Homo sapiens: one gene and its partner. The protein of the gene in region 1 interacts with the protein of each later gene in a pairwise test. Each region holds a gene or a part of one and is shown in the gene's direction. Other genes may lie near its edges.

Region 1 (3,648 bases):
GCCCCCACGCCCAGCTAATTTTTTTTTTTTTTTAAATCTTTAGCAGAGATGAGATTTTATCATGTTGGCCAGGCTGGTCTCAAACTCCTGACCTCAAGTGATCCGTCTGCCTAGGACTCCCAAAGCGTTGGGATTACAGGTGTGAGCTTCTGCACCTGGCCCTGTTTCTCATTATTCTCCTTACCATTGTTATTGAATGGCCTTTAGTTAATAAGCACCACTTGGGCAGACAGTGGACTGTTTTTGATGCTTTGAGGACGAATGGGGTTGATATCTGTACAGATAGACAGGAAAACAGATATCGGGCACGTTAAGTGGAAAAGATGAAGAAATGGAACAACGTATGTTGAAAGCTCCCATTTCTGGTTAAGACGTTACAAAGGAAATGCCATCTACGATACCATTGCTTTGGGCTTACAGCTGGGCAAATTATATGCACAGAAAGTTTCCTGGATTGGGCTGGGCATGTTGACTCACGCCTGTAATCCCAGCACTTTGGGAGGCCGAGGTGGGCGGATCATGAGGTCAGGAGATTGAGACCATCCTGGCTAACACGGTGAAACCCTGTCTCTACTAAAAATACAAAAAATTAGCCGGAAGTGGTAGCGGGCGCCTGTAGTCCCAGCTACTCGGGAGACTGAGGCAGGAGAATCATGCGAACCCGGGAGGTGGAGCTTGCAGTGAGCCGAGATCGCACCACTGCACTCCAGCCTGGGCGACAGAGTGATACTCCGTCTCAAAAAAAAAAAAAAAAAAAAAAAAAAAAAAAGAAAGTTTTCGTTTTCTGGATTGTAATCAACAAGGGCCAGGAAGGGTGGAGTCTTTGCGGGGTGAGAGGATGCGTGTGGACAGTGATAACAGCAGCTAGCCTACGTATGACACCCACTGAAAACCAGCGCTATACACTCAGCTCTACCCTTCTAACTTGTTGAATTCTTACAACACCCCCTAAGGCAGGAATATTATTATTCCCATTTTACTGAGGCACAGATAGTTTAGGTGACTTGCCCAAGGCCACACAGCTGGTAGGAATTTGAGGGTTTTTGTTGTTGTTGTTTGTTTGTTTGTTTTTTATGATGCAGTCTCGCTGTTGTCGCCCAGGCTGGAGTGCAGTGGCATGATCTTGGCTCACTGCAACCTCTGCCTCCCGGGTTCCAGCGATTCTCTTGCCTCAGTCTCCCGAGTAGCTGGAATTACAGGAGCCCACAACCATGCCTGGCTGATTTTTGTATTTTTAGTAGAGACCAGGTTTCACCATGTTGCTCAGGCTGGTCTTGAACTCCTGGCCTCAAGTGATCCGCCCACCTCGGCCTCCCAAAGTGCTGGGATTACAGGTGTGAGCCACTGTGCCCGGCTAGGGGGGGTTCAGTTTTTAAATGCTGTACTCTTTCTTTCTTTCTTTCCTTCCTTCCTTCCTTCCTTCCTTCCTTCCTTCCTTCCTTCCTTCCTTCCTTCCTTTCTTTCTTTCTTTCTTTCTTTTTCTTTCTTTCTTGGGACAGGGTCTCACTCTGTTGCTCAGGCTGGAGTGCAGTGGCGCGATCATGGCTAACTGCAGCCTCAAACTCCTGGGCTCATGTGATCTTCCACCCCAGTCTTAGAAAAGGTTGGGATTGCAGGCACGAACCACTATGCCTGGCTAATTTTTAAATTTTTTGTAGAGACAGAGGGTCTCACTGTGTTGCCTAGGCTGGTCTTGAACTCTTGGCCTCAAGCGATCCTTCCTCCTCAACTCAGCCTCCCAATGTACTGGGATTACAGGTGTGAGCCACTGCACCTGGCTAAATTCTGCACACCTTTTACTCTAGGGATAAAAATAATACGAAAGTGGAATGCCAGACTCCGAATACACACACCAAGTGGCCTGGACTCTTCACTGCTACCTGGCATGGGGGAGGGGAGTGCCCCAACTTCCTCTCTGTCCTTCCTGTTGCCTCAACACCAGCTGGAGTGCTGAGCAGTGCCAGCCAACCCATAATAGTCAGCAGAGAGCCTCAGGGCCAGGTCACTCTGACATTGTGGGGGTGGGGGGGTGGGGACTCCTGCCTGGGTCCTGTGCTACCCACAGCTTTGTCTACCGGAGCCTGTGTGCCACGTGCTGGACAAATCTTAACTCCTCAAGGACTCCCAAAACCAGAGGTAGGTTCACCTCAATGACTCTTGTTTCCCCGATGAGGAAATAGGCACAGCCAGCTGCAACTGACACCCACAGTCATGGAGGCCGGGGCTGCTCAGGACCACTTGCTGTGCTGCCTGCCAGCTCTCCAGAGCCCAAGATTTGGAGATGGTAATATTCTAGGGCATGGGGTTCTGCAGCGGGGACTAACACACTTTGAAATTTACCTACTTAGGGCTGGGCGCGGTGGCTCATGCCTGCAATCCCAGCACTTTGGGAGGCTGAGGTGGGCGGATCACAAGGTCAGGAGTTCGAGACCAGCCTGGCCAATATGATGAAACCCCGTATCTACTAAAAATACACAAATTAGTTGGGCATGGTGGCGGGTGCCTGTAGTCCCAGCTACTCAGGAGGCTGAGGCGGGAGAATTGCTTGAACCCTGGAGGCGGAGGTTGCAGTGAGCCGAGATTGCGTCACTGCACTCCAGCCTGGATGACAGAGCGAGACTCTGTCTCAAAAAAAAAAATTTTACCTACTTAGCTGAGTGATCTTAGGTAAATTACTTAACTTCTCTGTGCCTTATCTGTAGAATAAATATAACAATAGTGTCAAATTCAGACAGTTATTATAAGGTTTCAGTGAGGTCAGGCACGGTGGCTCATGCCTGTAATCCTAGCACTTTGGGAGGCCGTGGCAGGCAGACCACTTGAGGTCAGGAATTCCAAACCAGCCTGACCAACATGGTGAAACCCCGTCTCTACTAAAAATACAAAAAATTAGCCCCGGGCATGGTGGTGCACGCCTGTAATCCCAGCTACTCGGGAGGCTTGTGGCAGGAGTAATGCTTGAACCCAGGAAGCAGAGGTTGCAGTGAGCCAAAATAGCGCCACTGCACTCCAGCCTGGGTAGCAGAGTGAGACTCCGTCTCAAAAAAAAAAATAAATAAAATAAAATAAAACAAGGTTTCAGTGATACAGTGTTTAAAGCTGCGTGGTGGCCACTGCCTGTAGTCCCAGCTACTCAGGGGGCAGAGGTGGGAGGATCACTTGAGCACAGAGTTTGAGGCTGCAGTGAGCCGTGATTGCACCACTGCACTCCAGCGTTGGCAAGATGGCGAGACCCTGTCTCTAAAAAAAATATATATATATAAATTTGCCAGGTGTGGTGGTGCACACCTGTAGTCCCACGTACTCAGGAGGCTGAGGTGGGAGGACCACTTGAGCCCAGGAGTTCGAGGCTGCAGTGAGCCAAGATAGTGCCATTGCATTCCAGCCTGAGTGACAGAGCAATATCTGTCCCTAAAAAAAAAAAAAAAGTTGACACAAAACACAAAATGTTCAAGAAACAGTGGCTTCCAATAATAATAATTTTATTATTATTATTATTGTCAGGCACAGTGGCAATCATGCCTGTAATCCCAGCAGTTTGAGAGGCTGAGACAAGGCAGGTTGCTTAAGCCCCAGAATTCAAGACCAGCATGGGCAACATGGTGAAACCAGATGACCTCCAAAATAATAATAATAATAATAATAATA
Region 2 (3,648 bases), about 46 Mb from region 1:
GGGCCAGGAGGAGGGCTTCCTGGAGGAGGTGGTGTTTTGAAGGATGAATAGCGTGTTTATGAGCAGCAAGGACATTCAGGGAGGAGGCATGGCACATGAGGAGCTCTGGTGGCTCAGATGTCCCTTGGGAAGGCCTGGGGGACCCATGGTGTAGGAGGGGTGGGGGGCTCACAAGCCCCCAGTTCTCCCTGTCGGTGTCCAGTCTCTGAGCCCCTGCTTGTCTCCCCAGATCTTCCTGAAGGTGGTGGAGGAGTGTGCTGCGGACACAGATATGGAGGGTGCGGCCACAGCTCCCTGACCCCTGACCCCAGTCCAGAGTGGGACCAGAGGCCAGGTCCCCATCCCTGGCTTAGTGTGGCCCAAGGCATAGCCTTTACCCTATACCTGATTCCTGATCCCCCAATCCGTGACCCTCAACTTTGACCCTGACCCCTGATGGCCCTGCAGATGGCAGCTGCGGGCAGCACCTATGCACAGGCATTGCTGGCCTAGACGTAACCCTACGGCTCAAGATGCCGCCACAGGAGACAGCGCTGGAGAACGGGGAACCAGGTAAGTCCTTCCCAGTGGCCCTGGGGTCCTCCCAGCCACCCCCCCACAGCAGCGTGAGCACTGACCCTCTCATCCCTCACAGCTGGGTCAGCCCCAGAGACTGACCAGGGCTCTGGGCCAGACGCCGTGGGCCGGGTACAGGGCTGGGCACTGACCCGCCAGCAGCTCCAGGCCCTGCTTCTCAAGCGCTTTCTGCTTGCCCGCCGCAGCCGCCGCGGCCTGTTCGCCCAGGTGAGGAGGGCTAGCACCAGGGAGTCGCATGGGAGTCCCTGAGTTCCCTACCCTGGCCGTCCACTCAGTGGCCTAATCCAAACCCTTACCCCCGTGTGTATTCCCAACCCAAAGCACATTTATTGAGGGCACTGGGGAGCCATGGGTGGTTGTAGAGCAGGAGCAGGGACAGGTGCAAGCAAGCCTGGAGGGTGGATGGAAGCAGCAGCTGATGGGCTGGTCCCCCAGATCGTGCTGCCTGCCCTCTTTGTGGGCCTGGCCCTCGTGTTCAGCCTCATCGTGCCTCCTTTCGGGCACTACCCGGCTCTGCGGCTCAGTCCCACCATGTACGGTGCTCAGGTGTCCTTCTTCAGGTGGGTGCAGAAGGAAGGGGCTGGTGGCAGGAAGACTAGGGACCTGGGGGTACAGCCCTGACCCTACATCTCCCCTCACACACAGTGAGGACGCCCCAGGGGACCCTGGACGTGCCCGGCTGCTCGAGGCGCTGCTGCAGGAGGCAGGACTGGAGGAGCCCCCAGTGCAGCATAGCTCCCACAGGTGAGGCGTCTTGTTGGCCTGGACCTTTCCCCTCTCTGGCCTCAGTTTTCCCATCTGGTCCCTGGCCAGGGAGCCTCAGGGGGCACCTGGAGCATCCCCTGTGCCCACCTGGGAGCTGGGAGCCTCTGTGGCTCCAGGAACCCCCAGAAGCTGGGTGCCCACAGACCTTCACCTTGACCCTGCAGCGCCCTTGAGTGTGCACAGCCCATTGTCTGCAGGTTCTCGGCACCAGAAGTTCCTGCTGAAGTGGCCAAGGTCTTGGCCAGTGGCAACTGGACCCCAGAGTCTCCATCCCCAGCCTGCCAGTGTAGCCGGCCCGGTGCCCGGCGCCTGCTGCCCGACTGCCCGGCTGCAGCTGGTGGTCCCCCTCCGCCCCAGGCAGTGACCGGCTCTGGGGAAGTGGTTCAGAACCTGACAGGCCGGAACCTGTCTGACTTCCTGGTCAAGACCTACCCGCGCCTGGTGCGCCAGGGGTGAGCCATGCCCTGGGACTCAGTTTCCCTGGCTATAGCATGGGTCCTTGGGTTGCTGGGGCTGGTGTGGTCCTGGAGGAGGAAGTGGAGGGGTTGGATGCCCAGCTTGGGGCTACGGGCTGGGAGTCTCGCGTACCTTCCTTTCCTCTTTTTTTTTTTTTTTTTTTTTGAGATGGAGTCTCCCTCTGTTGCCCAGGCTGGAGTGCAGAGGTGTGATCTCAGCTCATTGCAACCTCCACCTCCCAGTTTCAAGCGATTCTCCTCCCTCAGCCTCCCGAGTAGCTGGGATTACAGGCACGCACCACCACTCCCGACTAATTTTTGTATTTTTAGTAGAGATGGGGTTTCACCGTGTTGCCAGGCTGGTCTCGAACTCCTGACCTCAGGTGATCCACCCGCCTTGGCCTCCCAAAGTGTTGGGATTACAGGCAGGAGCCACCGCGCCCGGCTTTCTTTCCTGTTTTTGTCCACCCTTGACTCTGTGCTCCCCTCTCACCATCTCTCTCTCTGTCCCACATCCCTGTCTGCCTGTGTCTCTGTCCATCTCTCCCACAGCCTGAAGACTAAGAAGTGGGTGAATGAGGTCAGGTGAGGAGGGGTCTAGCTTGGGGTCCCCTGCCCCAGTTCCACTCCCATGCCCTCTGCCTGCCCCCTGGGAGCTCTCCCGGCCCCCCCGGCCCTCAGCTCCCCTTCCCTGCCTGCATGGCCCCACAGATACGGAGGCTTCTCGCTGGGGGGCCGAGACCCAGGCCTGCCCTCGGGCCAAGAGTTGGGCCGCTCAGTGGAGGAGTTGTGGGCGCTGCTGAGTCCCCTGCCTGGCGGGGCCCTCGACCGTGTCCTGAAAAACCTCACAGCCTGGGCTCACAGCCTGGATGCTCAGGACAGTCTCAAGGTGGGAACTGGGGGGGCAGGTGGGCGTCCTGTCACAGCAAGGTCCAACCCCATTGCTCTGACCCTATGACCTTGACCCCCACCCAGATCTGGTTCAACAACAAAGGCTGGCACTCCATGGTGGCCTTTGTCAACCGAGCCAGCAACGCAATCCTCCGTGCTCACCTGCCCCCAGGCCCGGCCCGCCACGCCCACAGCATCACCACACTCAACCACCCCTTGAACCTCACCAAGGAGCAGCTGTCTGAGGGTGCACTGTGAGTCCCTCCACCCTGCATGTCCTACCCTGCACGTCCTACCCTGCCTCCATTTCTCTGTCGTTTGGGGTGGTGGGAGCTGGATTTGAACCCTGACACACTCTTGCTTTATAAATGGGGGATAGAAACTGTTCCTCTGCTCCCTAAGCCAGGGAAATGGGACCTCCTCAGACTCAGCGGGCCCCAGCCTCCCCCACACATCCTCATCCCACCAACCTTTATCCTGCCTGAGACCTGTACAACCTCTGCTGCCAAATCCCAGGCACCCTCATCCCTAAATTGCCCCTGCCATCTCTGCCACTGCTGACTGCCCCATAGACCTTTGTCCCATCAATGGCGTGTTCAGCTCTGCTCTGAGCAACCCATGCACCCTCACCCTACAACAGCTCTCATGTCTTCACCTCCAGGATGGCCTCCTCGGTGGACGTCCTCGTCTCCATCTGTGTGGTCTTTGCCATGTCCTTTGTCCCGGCCAGCTTCACTCTTGTCCTCATTGAGGAGCGAGTCACCCGAGCCAAGCACCTGCAGCTCATGGGGGGCCTGTCCCCCACCCTCTACTGGCTTGGCAACTTTCTCTGGGACATGGTGCGGGGGCTGCTTGGACGGGTGGGGGCCCAGCCACTGCTTGCCACTGCCCTGTCTGGCCCCTTGTAGGCAGGGGCTTGTCCAAGATGGCCTGGGTAAAGTCTTGAGGATTGTGGGAGACT

Evidence for each region. The genes of interacting proteins can lie anywhere in the genome.
Region 2: the proteins of C5AR2 (region 1) and ABCA7 interact in a two-hybrid assay, tested with the Homo sapiens proteins (one large-scale study listed by BioGRID and IntAct).

What each region holds. Positions count from the first base shown.
Region 1 is NC_000019.10:47,335,034-47,338,681, forward strand, and holds part of C5AR2 (C5a anaphylatoxin chemotactic receptor 2), read left to right. Parts: intron 1-2,061; exon of another isoform or gene 2,062-2,136; intron 2,137-3,648.
Region 2 is NC_000019.10:1,053,559-1,057,206, forward strand, and holds part of ABCA7 (phospholipid-transporting ATPase ABCA7), read left to right. Parts: intron 1-229; coding exon 230-278; intron 279-447; coding exon 448-552; intron 553-634; coding exon 635-783; intron 784-1,011; coding exon 1,012-1,136; intron 1,137-1,221; coding exon 1,222-1,320; intron 1,321-1,538; coding exon 1,539-1,793; intron 1,794-2,348; coding exon 2,349-2,381; intron 2,382-2,507; coding exon 2,508-2,685; intron 2,686-2,771; coding exon 2,772-2,941; intron 2,942-3,348; coding exon 3,349-3,526; intron 3,527-3,648. UniProt on the Homo sapiens protein: Catalyzes the translocation of specific phospholipids from the cytoplasmic to the extracellular/lumenal leaflet of membrane coupled to the hydrolysis of ATP. Transports preferentially phosphatidylserine over phosphatidylcholine.